Linked DNA regions of Homo sapiens: all the other regions are linked to region 1. The links come from fine-mapping of genetic effects on gene expression. A gene starts in region 1. Each other region holds a variant in brackets. All regions are shown on one strand. Distances are between the middles of the regions.

Region 1 (4,200 bases):
ATGATTACAGAGTTAGGACAAGACAATGAGTACCATCCTAAACTGCTAATGGTAATGAAACCTAGAGGACGCTGGGTCTACAGCATTAGGAATCCATTCAAAGAGTATATACATAAGATTGACCTATAAGGATGCTCAATGAAGTATGATGTAACACCAAAAATGCAAATAGAAACCCTTAAATGTCCAACAACGGAGGAATAGTTAAACAAAATTAAGGCATATCCATATTATGGAATACTAAGTACTCAGAAAAACACAAAAATATTAAAATACTTTATAGTGAAATTTAAATAAAACAGGAGAATATGAAATATCAAGATATTTTTCGATCTTGATTTGATAACTGAAGAGTAAGGAAGAAACAAGTTACAAAACAAGGCAAAGCAGACAACCCAATTTAAAAATGGGCAAAAGATGTAAACACCTCTCGCAAATGAAATTAACGCAGATAGCAAATAAGTATATGAAAAGATGAACACTGTATATCATGAGATATTCCAAAGTTGAAACAAGATACCACTACGCAGCTATCAGAATGGATAGCAATCCAAAGTAACCGACAGCCCCGCATGCTGGCGAGCACGCAGAGCAACAAGGAGAGCCTTCACTTCTGGTGGGAGTCAAATGGCACAGTCACTCTGGAAGATGGCTTGGCAGCTTCTTAGAAAACTAGTCTTACTACATGAGTAATCGCTCTTCCAGGTATTACCCAAATGATATAAAAATGTATTTCCAAAAAGAAATCTGCATGTACACGATTACAGCAGCTTTATTCATAATTGCCAAAAACTTGAAGCAACCAAGATGCCCTTCAATTGCTGAATGAATTGAAGTACATCCATGCAATGAGATATTACTCAGTGATTAAAAAGAAATGAGTTACCAAGCCACGAAGACATAAGTGAATCTTACATAGATATTTCCAAGTATTCAAGGCGTCTGAAAAGGCAATATATTGTATGATTCTAATTATATGACATTCCAGAAAAGGCAACTATGGAAATGTTAATGAGATCTGTGGTTGTCAGGGGTTGGAGAAAAAGAAGGGTTTAATAGGTAAAGCAGAGGGGAATTTTTTAAGGCAGTGAAGCTACTCTGTACGAACCTATAATGGTGGAGACATGCTATTACACACGTGTCAAAACCTATAGAACCTTATAGCACAAAGAAAAAATCCATAGAACCTTATAGCACAAAGAATGCGCTCAATGTATGCACATTTTAAAAAACGCATTAGGTAGAAGGATCCCAAGATGTAAGGCAGAATGTGACAAAGCAATCCAACTGTGTTACAAATGTATGAAACGATTTCACTGAAGAAGGTGGGGGCAAAATGCTAAGAAATGAGAGTAGTCAGTCAGAGTAAAGGCAAAAGGAAGCGGACACAAGCACTGAACTCCGTGTCTGCTCAACATGGCATCACCCAAGCACCCAGCAGGGCCCGACCTTTAAACGGCTCTTGACAGGGCTGCTACGTGAATTATCTAATGACAAGCGCGTGTGCCCCCGGCCTGCCACCTGCACACGGGCCTCCCGCATCAGGGCAGCCTCGGGGCCCTGATCACCTCCGCGCTCCAGCGTTTTGCTTAAAGCTGAGATAAAATGGCCTGGAGAAGCTCGTGGCCCCCTGAGGTCTGTCCACGACCAAAGACCAAACAATTCCGGAGGCAGGAGGGGTCCCCCAAACCCACCCGGAGAGCGACCTGGGAGCCGCCGCCAGAGGCCGGGGGAGATGTGGAACTGCTCCCCACCCCGCCACCCCGCCACCCTGCCACCCCGCCACCCTGCCACCCCGCCGCCCGCTCACCACGCGCTGGGCGCCCGCCGCCACGACCCGGGCGGACGCGGACGTCGCTGCCAGCTTCAGGAGCCGCAAGGCCATGGCTACCCGGTCAGCTCAGGATCAAGGACCCAAGGGGACGCGGTCGCGACGGGGCCCTCTCTCGCGGCCGGCGCGCTGCCGTGACGTCACGGCCGGGGTGCCCGCGGCGCCTGTCGGGAACCTTCCAGGGGGCGGGGCCGCGCCGAGGCCCTCGGGGGCTTCCGCGGAGACAGCCAGTGCGCTGCCAGGGTCCTGCGGGTTGGGGCGAGGGCCGAGAGGTGGGAGTTGGAGGTGAACGTGGGGGCAGCATGCTGGCTGCCCGGCCCCTGCCTGGGTTCTGAGTTGCTGCGGTGTCGCGGGAGCTGAGGCCGCCCAGGGCGTGGAGCGACTTCTGCGTCTCGTCCCAGGGTCCTGTGCTCCCCGCAGAATCCCCCAGGCGCGGTGTGGACGTCAAAGCGACCTCCTAGAGAACATTCCTAGCTCTCAGAACGTTCTCGCTGGGGAGGGAAAGTGGAAAAAGAGGGGGCGAGGAGCGGAGGGACGGGGTGGGACCCCTGTCGCGGGGCGCCTGTCAGGGAGAGGGACCTGGCAAGGCCGGCCTGGGTCGCCTCCGGAGCTGAAGGCTAAGTGGTCTCATCCAGGGGACCTGCTGTGAACACATTGAATAGCATAGAAAACAAAAGCACACGCTCCAAGTCCATCTCTTTTTTTTTTTTTTTTTTTTTTTTTTTTTTTTTTTTTTTTTGAGGCAGAGTCCCGCTCTGTCGCCCAGGCTGGAGTGCGGTGGCGCCATCGCGCTCACTGCAAGCTCCGCCTCCCTGGTTCACGCCATTCTCCTGCCTCAGCCTCCCGAGTAGCTGGGACTACAGGCGCCCGCCGCCACACCCGGCTAATTTTTTGTATTTTTAGTAGAGACGGGGTTTCACCATGTTAGCCAGGATGGTCTCGATCTCCTGACCTCGTGATCCACCCGCCTCGGCCTCCCAAAGTGCTAGGATTACAGGCGTGAGCCACCGCGCCGGCAAGTCCATCTCTTAAAATGTGCTCCCGTCAGGACCTGGGCTCTGGGCTCCACGAAGGAGCCTTGCATGTGAGGTTTCCTTCCAAGTATGCCTGCTGTTGGGAAGGGTTTTTATAATCTTTTGTGTTCCCCAGGCTTTTTGTTCTTAACCCCTTAAATATTCTTTAACTTTGTTTTCAACTTTTCAGAAATGATCATGCGATTGTAAAACAGTGGGAATGCAGCTGTGTAAACTACGGCCGGTTCTATGGATGTTTCTATAATTGAAGAATTGCTTTTTGTCAAAAATACGGATTCCCGGTCCCCAACGCAGGAGGGTCTGGTTTTTAGATCCTGGAGGGCACCTGAAATCCATTTAACAAGCTTTAGGGTTCATGTCTGCTGTTTTTTGCCTTGTTTCCTTTGCATTTTTTTTTTTTTTTTTTTTTTGTGCCTTCCAATGGATACAGTACATTTTTTTAGAATTCCATCTTGATTTACTGATAATGTCTTGGGAAATATCATTATGTATAGTTTTCGTAGTGGTTCCTCTAGGTATCACAGCACGCAGACGTAACTTCTCACAACCTGTTTGCGTGGATGTTTTGTTGTACCTGAGCGAGTTAGAAAAACACCACCTTTGAGACGAATTAAGAGTCCTTTATTAGCTGGCGACCGAGAGACGGCTAACGCTCAAAATTCTCTCAGCCCCGAGGAAGGGGCTTGATTAACTTTTATACCTTGGTTTAGGAAGGGGGGGGGGTCTAGTTAAAACAATTTTACAGAAGTAAAGTAGTCAAAAAGTTAAAAGGGTAAATGGTTACAGGAAAGTAAACAGTTCAAGGTGCAGGGGCTTTAAGACTATTACAAGATGATAGACCCGGGGCTTTGGGCGTTATCAATCGGACAAATTCCTGGGAACTGCGGATGTAGCTTGCCACAGTATCTTACCAGTTAATTGCATTCTTGGATGTGGTGGGAGTCAGCCTGCACAAGTTAAGTCCTTGAGAAAGGGGCTGCCAGTGAAAGAGCCAAGATGGAGTCTGTCTGGCTCTCTTAGCTAAGGGAGAGTCAATTCAGGTGGAAACAGGGCTAGGTGATTAAAGGAAAAGGGAGAGTCTGAAAACAGTTAGTAAAAACCAGGTTGGGCATTACAGTTTTACTGGTTCAAGGGAAGTATTACTATATACTTCCCCGTCCCTCCGCTTCTCGCCCCCCTTTTTCCGTTTTCCCTCCCCAGCTAGAACGTTCTGAGAGCTAGGAATGTTCTCTAGGAGGTCGCTTTGACGTCCACACTATATTAGACAGCATGAAAATAACTTCAGACCCCAATAGACCAATATCTCTCGTGAACTTAGACACAAAAATCCTTAAC
Region 2 (4,200 bases), 52 kb before region 1:
CATAAAAACATTCTCAAATGCTACTTTGTAAGAAGAAAGCAGAAAAGAACTTATTTGGTGAGTGAATGTGATTAACTTGATAGTAGATATATCTCAGGAAATGTCATTCAGGAGAAAGCCAAAGAAACCTCCTGAACAAGCACCTCCCCGCCCAGGTACATCGCAAGGGTCTCCAAGTAGGTCTTCCTTGAGTGTGGCAGCTGACTTGCTATTCCTGGCCAAGGCCATGGCTTTTCTCTACTGAACACCTATGCCACTCACTCTTTTTGAAGTGCTGTCCTGAGCCACCTCTGCCTCCTCGAATCCTGCCATGAAATAATGCCCCTTCCTTCTCAGAGCTCCCTTCATCCTTTGACTTTTCTTTGGTACTCATCACAAAGTTATGTCCAATGCAATCATTGATACACTTACTGATATTAGTGGGCAGCCTCTAAGTAGAAACCTTTTTACTAGTGTTATTTCCTGTGACCCTGACAGCATGAGGTAAAGGAAGGCACAGTCTCTGTTTTAAAAGAGACAGGGTGTTCAGAGACTTGACTTGCCTACGGTCACGTGGCTAGCTGGTGGCAGGCTGAAAGTGGAGCCCCGATCTTTTAATGATCAAGTCCAGGATCTTTTTCCCACTACAGCATGTAAATATTCGTTGAATTAAATTGTAACTTTTAGTGTGCTAACTCTTAAAAATAACACAATAAGCTCTTTCCTCAATCACATACTACTTATACGAGGTTTTACTGAATTCCCCTCATTCCCTCCAATTTTCCATTTATCTGTCAATCAGCATATATATAGTAAAGGTATGTTGCTCAAGGTCTCAGCTATGAGATTTCTTGGGTGTCTGTTAGGTTATGGTCCACAATCCACTCTACCCAGATAAAGGTGACTCCAATCTTTCTGCAGGTCCTTTCGTATGTAACTCAAAGCACTTCTCTTGGGGGATGTTTATATCCTAGTAGTCACCTCAGGGACATTCAAGGATGCTCAGTTTCCCAGCTGAAAGAGTTTTCATGAAGGATGTGTGTGTGTGTGTGTGTGTGTGTGTGTGTGTACATGTATACATATATTTGTAAATATATTGATAAATATTATACATATAAATAAATATGTGTATATTCCAGCAACAAACCCTTTATTGTATTACTGTAAATATATAAATTAAACAAAAAAACGATTGAGTGAGGGCCTGTGTACCGGGTGGGCTTCACTCTGCTGGGGCAAGCAATGGGTTATGCCAAGCATGACTGGCTCCCCTCTCTCTAGATGCACTAAGGAGCTTCAAAATACTGCAAAGTTCTGGGGTGATTTGGAAATTCCAGTTTCCAACTCCTATTTTCCATTATAACATATAAATGCTAATCAATTCTGCTTGGAGTTTTTCATTAATTTTAAAGAAGAGCACTATAGATATTAAAGACACTTCTCTGATACACAATTTCCCTTAATTTCCATTACTGTAGAACACAAATCGAATGTAACAAAATTGGCATAAATTTTCAAAAAATCTTTTAACAGTCAACTTTCAAAAACCATATTTTTATTTTGAAAATGTGTGTTCTATTTTTTAACACATAAAACTATAGCTTCCTACAAATATATCATTATTTAGCTGTCATATTTGTTGCAATGAGTATTAACAATAGTTCAAATGTCTTAATCCTCCTTAACTCTTATTAGCTGTGAATAATAGAAAAGCTCCTAACCTAAGTGCTTGTTTTAAACCTGAAAATGGTATGCTTTCTAAAAATTCTAAAGTAAATACAATCATATGTAACACACTGTAAAGTCAGGGCACTTGATTTTCCAGATTGCATGTAAGACAGTATCTTACCACTTTCCATCAGTAGACAGGCAGATACCACATACCACAGCAATCACATACAAACCAATGGACCTGGTAAAGATCACCTTTTATGCTCATCATCTTCTTCGAGGGACACATGCTGATAATTTTCCATACACAGAGATGTAAATAACTCGGGCATACAGATTAACGCCGAGTTTCTATGATTAATTTCCACAGTGCAGGTGGCAGGGCACAAAGTGGAGAGAACACTGAAGGCATTACGCATTTACTTTCAAACTTAATTAAGTAACTTATAAACTGAAAATTTGTATTTTAACACAACTAGATACCAAACTGAGTTCCAAGTAAGGTCTGAATGTCATGAGGAA[C/T]CTAAAGCAGTCACGTCTGGCCTTCCGTCTCCCGCATGTTTAGGTAAACTGATCCTAGTGCCTTTCTGTAAGGTGAATTTCATAAAGGCAAGAACATACAGTATTAACATATTAAAGTTAATAAAAACATCTCTGTTTTAAAAAATGGTAAGGGAGAACTCAATACTGAAAATGAAAACAACTTGAGATAGTAAAAGAAACAAAAATAGCAGGCGAGAAAACAGAAGATTCTGTTGTCCTAGCAACTATCTTGGACACGATCAGCTTCAAGGAGGGAACGATCAGCTTCAAGGAGGGAACGATCAGCTTCAAGGAGGGAGCACAGTATCTTAACAGCATCTGGCTTCCTTCCATTGAAGAGACTGAACTGGTAAAATAGAAACCAAATCACAGTTTGTCTAATCCAAAGAAGGGCTGTACAGAAATAAAAAGTGACCTGATACAATGTTTAAAACGTGACTTTAAAAAATCAGCAGCCTGTCCTGCACACATTCAGTATTTTCATGAACTTACACAGGGTCAATTCCGGGCACAAAATGAGGAGGGTCGCTAAGGAAAAACATGTTCATATATATTGCTCAGACCCCAGGTACACATGCCCCACTGAAAATGCTGCTTTACTTATTTATTTTTATTTAATTTTAGTTTTTTTGAGATGGAGTCTCACTCTGTTGCCCAGGCTAGAACACAGTGGCAATTCTGGCCCACTGCAACCCCCGCCTCCTGGATTCAAGTGATTCTCATGCCTCAGCCTCCCGAGTAGGTGGGATTACAGGTGCTCGCCACCACGCCTGGCTAATTCTTGTGTTTTTTAGGAAGAGACAGGGTTTCTCCATGTTGGCCAGGCTGATCTCCAACTCCTGACCTCAAGTCATCCGCCCGCCTCAACCTCCCAAAGTGCTGGGATTACAGGCGTGAGCCACTGCACCCAATGAAAACGCTGTTTTAGATGAAAACTTGGATTCCTGAGGCATCAGTGCCCTAGCGCTGGGTGTCGCCTAGAGTGTGGACAGGTGCCTGAGAGCCATCAGGACACTAGCCAGACAAGTGACAAGACAAACACTCCAAGGTCACAGGATCAACAAAACCAAAAATCATAAACCCTTCTATTCATATGAAAATCTAAGATCCACTCTGCTGTGAAAAGGTCTTTCTTTACTCGTCTGTGTACCCATGTCACCAGCATGTTCATCAAATGAGAGTGTGGATGTCCCCTCCAAATCTCATGCTGAGATGTAACTCACAGTGTCAGAGGTGGGGCCTGGTGGGAAGTGTTTGGATCATGCGGGCTGATCCCTCATGAATGGCTTGGGCCATCTCCTTGGTGATGAGTAGGCTCTTACTCTGAGTTCACACAAGACCTGGTCATTTAAAAATATGTGACACTCTACCACCAAAGATCTGGTCATTTAAAAATACGTGACACTCCGCCACCAAAGAGCTGGTCATTTAAAAATATGTGACACTCTGCCACCAAAGATCTGGTCATTTAAAAATATGTGACACTCTGCCACCAAAGATCTGGTCATTTAAAAATATGTGACACTCTGCCACCAAAGAGCTGGTCATTTAAAACTATGTGACACTCTACCACCAAAGAGCTGGTCATTTAAAAATATGTGACACTCCGCCACCAAAGAGCTGGTCATTTAAAAACATGTGACACTCCTCCGCCACCAAAGAGCTGGTCATTTAAAAACATGTGACACTCCTCCGCCACCAAAGAGCTGGTCATTTAAAAATATGTGACAGACACTCCGCCACCAAAGATCTGGTCATTTAAAAATATGTGACACTCCGCCACCAAAGATCTGGTCATTTAAAAATATGTGACACTCTGCCACCAAAGATCTGGTCATTTAAAAATATGTGACACTCTGCTGCCCCATTCTCTTGCTCCTGCCTTATTAGGATGTACCTGCTTCCCCTTTACCGTCTACCATGATTGTAAGTTTCCTGAGGCCTCCCCAGAAGCAGAAGTTGCTATGCTTCCTGTACAGCCTGCAGAACCGTGAGCCAATAAAACCC
Region 3 (4,200 bases), 65 kb before region 1:
GACTTTCTTTTCAATACAGAATTCTCATGCCTGTAAACACATGCCTGTATGAATAAAATCCAGACACAAAACCATACTGCTGCAACAGCATGATTATTTCCTGATCTCCAAAGCACTGAGAAGTCCAACATGGAATCCTGGAAAATGCACGATTATTTTGATCCTGGTTTGTTGGTGCTGTTGTTTTAGTTGTAAGAGCTTTCGTGAGACGAACGCATGTACTGCTCTGAAATAAGGAAATCGGGGCATCTCCTCACCTCTTCTTGAGGCTTCTATGTGGAGAGAAGAATTGGACAGTGTTTATTCATCTTTCTCTGCTGAACATGCATGTCATTGAAAACACCAGAAAATCAAACAGACGAATGTCCTCAGCACTACAAATTACATACTTCCCACTCCATCAAGGGAATGCAACCACACAGGGTCAGACGCAAACACAGGGGATGATCAGAGCACCCGAGTCCACACCATGCCGACACGGAGCCCTGCATGGTTGGAGAGCTCTGCCCCTCACAAGGGCAATCCTGACCACAGGGCAGACCTGCCCTCTCACTGCTGAGGACACTACCCGTGCAACCACCAAGGTTGAAGGAAACAGCTAGCTCTTTGCAGCCAAAGACATTAGGAACAGCTAAGATAATTAAAGATGGCTTTCTTTTTCTTTCCTCCCCTCCACAATGGGTTTGTGAAGTGCTCAGAGCAAAAGACACTCTGTGACTGGCCCAATGCCCAGCTGTGCTTTCATTTCATGATTAAAGCTGTTGGTTTCCTAGTGAAATGCAAAACTTCAGCCACTTAAATCTCGACTCCAATTCAAAACTCCTGGGAAACTTTATTTTCAAATTCTTAAAACAAGGAAGGAGGCAGGGAGGAAGGGAAGGGAGGAAAACAAGGACAGACGGAAGGAAGGAAGGAAGAGAAGGAGGGAAGGAAAGAGGCAGGGAGGAAAACAAGGACAGACGGAAGGAAGGAAGAGAAGGAGGGAAGGAAAGAGGCAGGGAGGAAGGGAAGGGAGGAAAACAAGGACAGATGGAAGGAAGAAAGGAAGGGAGGGAAGGAGGAGGAAAGAAGGAGGGAAGGAAGGGGAGAGGGAAAAAGGCAGGCGGACGCAAGGAGGGAAGGAGTGTGCATCTTCTTCGCATGCTCCGCAGCAGCGAGGCCTGGTAGAGCTTCCGCGGGGAGCAGAGCATCGTCCTCTGCACCAGCACTGGAACTACTGCCCACAGGCGGCTGTGGAGTGCCTGAACTATGGCCAGTGCAACCAAGGAACCCAATTTTAAACTCTATTACATTTTAGCTCATTTAAATTTCAATACCCACATGTGGCTAGGAGCTACCATATTGGACACAGTGGAGCTTTACAGTGGAAAACCCACAGTTCAGTAGGACTCACAACTGGCAGCCTGATTCCTAATGGACACAGTGGAGCTTTACAGTGGAAAACCCACAGTTCAGTAGGACTCACAACTGACAGCTTGATTCCTAAACCATGATGCTGAACCACAACCAGCTTGTTTTGGTTTTCTAGGCTTCAACAGAGATGAATAAAGAAATCTGATTTTCTTTCTCATTTCTCAGTTTTGACTGGCAACTTGATTTTCTGGGTAATAAAGAGAGTATATTATTTTGCTTTTGCATCTTATGTCATCAACAGCCTAAGCTCAAATCTCCCTTCAAAGGAGTTTGAGACGCTGAGGACGGCCACGTGAATCTTTCTCAACGTCTCTCTTAAAACATATTGTTCTGTAAATCTGTGGTAATTTTCTCCTTTTGCTATTTCTTCTTCACGTTCTTATTTTTTCTACTCTAATGTAGCACATTACTAAAATAAATACAGTAGGCCTTTAGAAAAACTCTTCAGCATAATGTAAGCCTCAATTAAACCACACCACACCAAACAGGGCCCAGAGCAGC[G/A]TGTGTGCACGTGTGCAGTTTCGACGTGCCCGCACGCACATAGACGTACGATGGGGAAATTCCCATGGAAACACTTTTATTTCTGGAAGTCAGAAGAAAAACAATGTGCACAACCTGAATGACACAGAGCGGCAGCGCTGAAACCACAGGGGCTGCCGAGAGCTGGCCTTTCACAGCAGACCACTGTTTTCCAGTGAGAATGGTGGGCCATTCCAAAACAAAGCTAAAGGGTTCCAAACATCCAGAATGGAAGCTGCTTCCCCCAACTCCATTACCTATACTACAGGATGGATTGCTTTTTGTGAGACCCCTTCTTCCACTGTGCAATTTTTGCATTATTTACCCTCCCCCGATCTTAAAGCTATATGGCGTCCAGGAGAGTGCGGCTGATGCAGCTTGGCCATCACTGTGATGCAGCTGGAGCAGAAGGCGGCCCGTTCACTTCAGCCAGATCCACTTGTCTCCCACCTCGGTGTTGTACCCAGGGCTGTACTTGCGGCCCGGCAGCTGTGGGGGAAAAAGGCATTGGTGCATTCTGTTTAACGTGAATGAATGTTTCCCCAGCTCATAGTTCAATGTCTACCCGGCAGATGCCTGTACTTCATGAGTTCCTTCAGCAATGCTGGTGAGCACATGATCTGTGGCAGGTGTCTCCTGTGAGTGCAAGGATGCCACAGGTACACAAACCACAACCCAGCCCTGCCTGCCAGAAGCTTCTGTCCTAGGGCTGGGAGCCACAAATGGAAACGAACTACTGAGTGTTCTCATTAATGTCAGGAGGGTGACAAGAGCCACAGGAGGGGGACAGAGAGCAATGGGTGGCACTTAGGGGAGGCCCTGAGCAGGGACAGCCACGCAGACACAGGGGTGGGGCTGGGACCCAGGAACCACAGTTCACCAACTGAAACACCGAGTTCTCTCTGAAAAAGCCCCGCGTGAAATTCCCTCTGAAGAGGGCCTGCAGAGGCCGGGCCGCTGGCTGTAAGGGGCCCTTGGCGGAGTAGGAAAGTGAGTTTCATCCAGGCCTTTTAAGTAGACATGGGCAGGGTTCAGGAAAACCAGCAAAGGAGGGGGAAGCACTGCAGGACTGACCCTAGCGGGAGCCACTGAACATCCAGGAGCGACAGGACGACAGAGCCCAGGAGGAGCGGATGCTGCCAGAGAGGCCAGTGGGGGGCTGAGCTTGGCAGTGATGGAGCTGCAGAAAGGATGTTACAGGCCCCACTTCTCCCACCATCTGGGAGAGATCAGGGGCTCAGGTGGCGGTCCACAGAGGCCAACCTCACAGGGCACAGGGAGATCTGGGGGGCAACAAGAGCCCCTGCCAGCACAAAGACGCCTGTTCATGAGGGTAGGCGGCCAGCACAGGGCTGGCTGAGACGGAAAGAGGAGTGTTGCTCCGCAGGACCACCTCGTTGCGGAGCCAGGAGAAAGCGCTCAGCACGGTGTGTGTCGCCCAGCGATGGCAGGTGGGAAAATGATGAGTTTTTTCATATTTTCAAATCAGCATGGGCACACAGTCAATTTGTGTACACACACACACACACACACACACACACACCCCTTCCAAATTCTGCCCTTAAGAACAGGTACTAAAACCATTTTTAAAAGAATCAGCTTTTCCTTTATCCTAATCAGCAGCAGGCATTCACAGCCATCCACACAGCCATGGCTGCCTGGATCACAAATCACTGAAATGTGCCTTGCCTGGCCTCTGCCACAGTGGCCACGCAGTGACAGACGAACACACAATGCATCCTATGAAGCAGCAGACAGGTCGCCCCAAGACCAGCCATCTCACACACAGGACAGGCAAAGCTCTAGGATCTTCAAGGCCCAGGAGCCACCCTTCCTCCTCCCCAGAAAGCCTCTCCTCTCCTAGGTGCACAGCTGTGAAGTGGGACCTGGAAGTGGAGGGGCCGGTGCTCTGTTAGTTCATTCTTGCACTGCTATAAAGACATACCCGGGGCTGAGAAATGCAGAGAGAAAAGAGGTCTAATTGGCTCATGGTTCTGCAGGCTGTGTGGGAAGCATGGTGCCAGCATCTGCTTCTGGGAAGGCCTCAGGAAGCTTCCAATCATAGTGGAAAGCAAAGCAGGGGCAGGTACGCCACATAGTGGGAGTAGGAGCAAGAGCAAGAGCATGAGGCGGGTAGGGGGTGGGAGCTGCCATATACTTTAAAATGAGAGGTCGACGCGCACTCTGTGAGAACATACTAATTACCTCCAGGAGGGCACCAAGCCATTCATGAAGGATCTACTCCCATGACCTAAACACCACCCACCA

Evidence for each region. PIP is the estimated chance that this variant, and not a neighbour inherited with it, causes the effect. A credible set is the group of variants that fine-mapping cannot tell apart.
Region 2: its variant is the best candidate, but not a certain one, in a credible set for the expression of NDUFA10 in whole blood (INTERVAL, PIP 0.87).
Region 3: its variant is the best candidate, but not a certain one, in a credible set for the expression of NDUFA10 in whole blood (INTERVAL, PIP 0.71).

What each region holds. Positions count from the first base shown.
Region 1 is chr2:240,023,417-240,027,616 of GRCh38, forward strand. It overlaps NDUFA10 (NADH:ubiquinone oxidoreductase subunit A10), which reads right to left and starts at 1,926. Exons shown (of 10, transcript NM_004544.4): 1 at 1,811-1,926. The coding sequence starts at 1,885. RefSeq lists a silencer at 1,853-2,112 and an enhancer at 1,921-2,750.
Region 2 is chr2:239,971,123-239,975,322 of GRCh38, forward strand. All of the region lies in intron 9 of NDUFA10 (NADH:ubiquinone oxidoreductase subunit A10), which reads right to left. Among named protein-coding and RNA genes, the nearest start is that of MIR4786, 30 kb to the left of the region's middle. The variant C/T (reference allele first, on the strand shown) is at 2,173.
Region 3 is chr2:239,958,766-239,962,965 of GRCh38, forward strand. NDUFA10 (NADH:ubiquinone oxidoreductase subunit A10) reads right to left here. Exons shown (of 10, transcript NM_004544.4): 10 at 1-2,421. The coding sequence ends at 2,353. Among named protein-coding and RNA genes, the nearest start is that of MIR4786, 18 kb to the left of the region's middle. The variant G/A (reference allele first, on the strand shown) is at 1,915.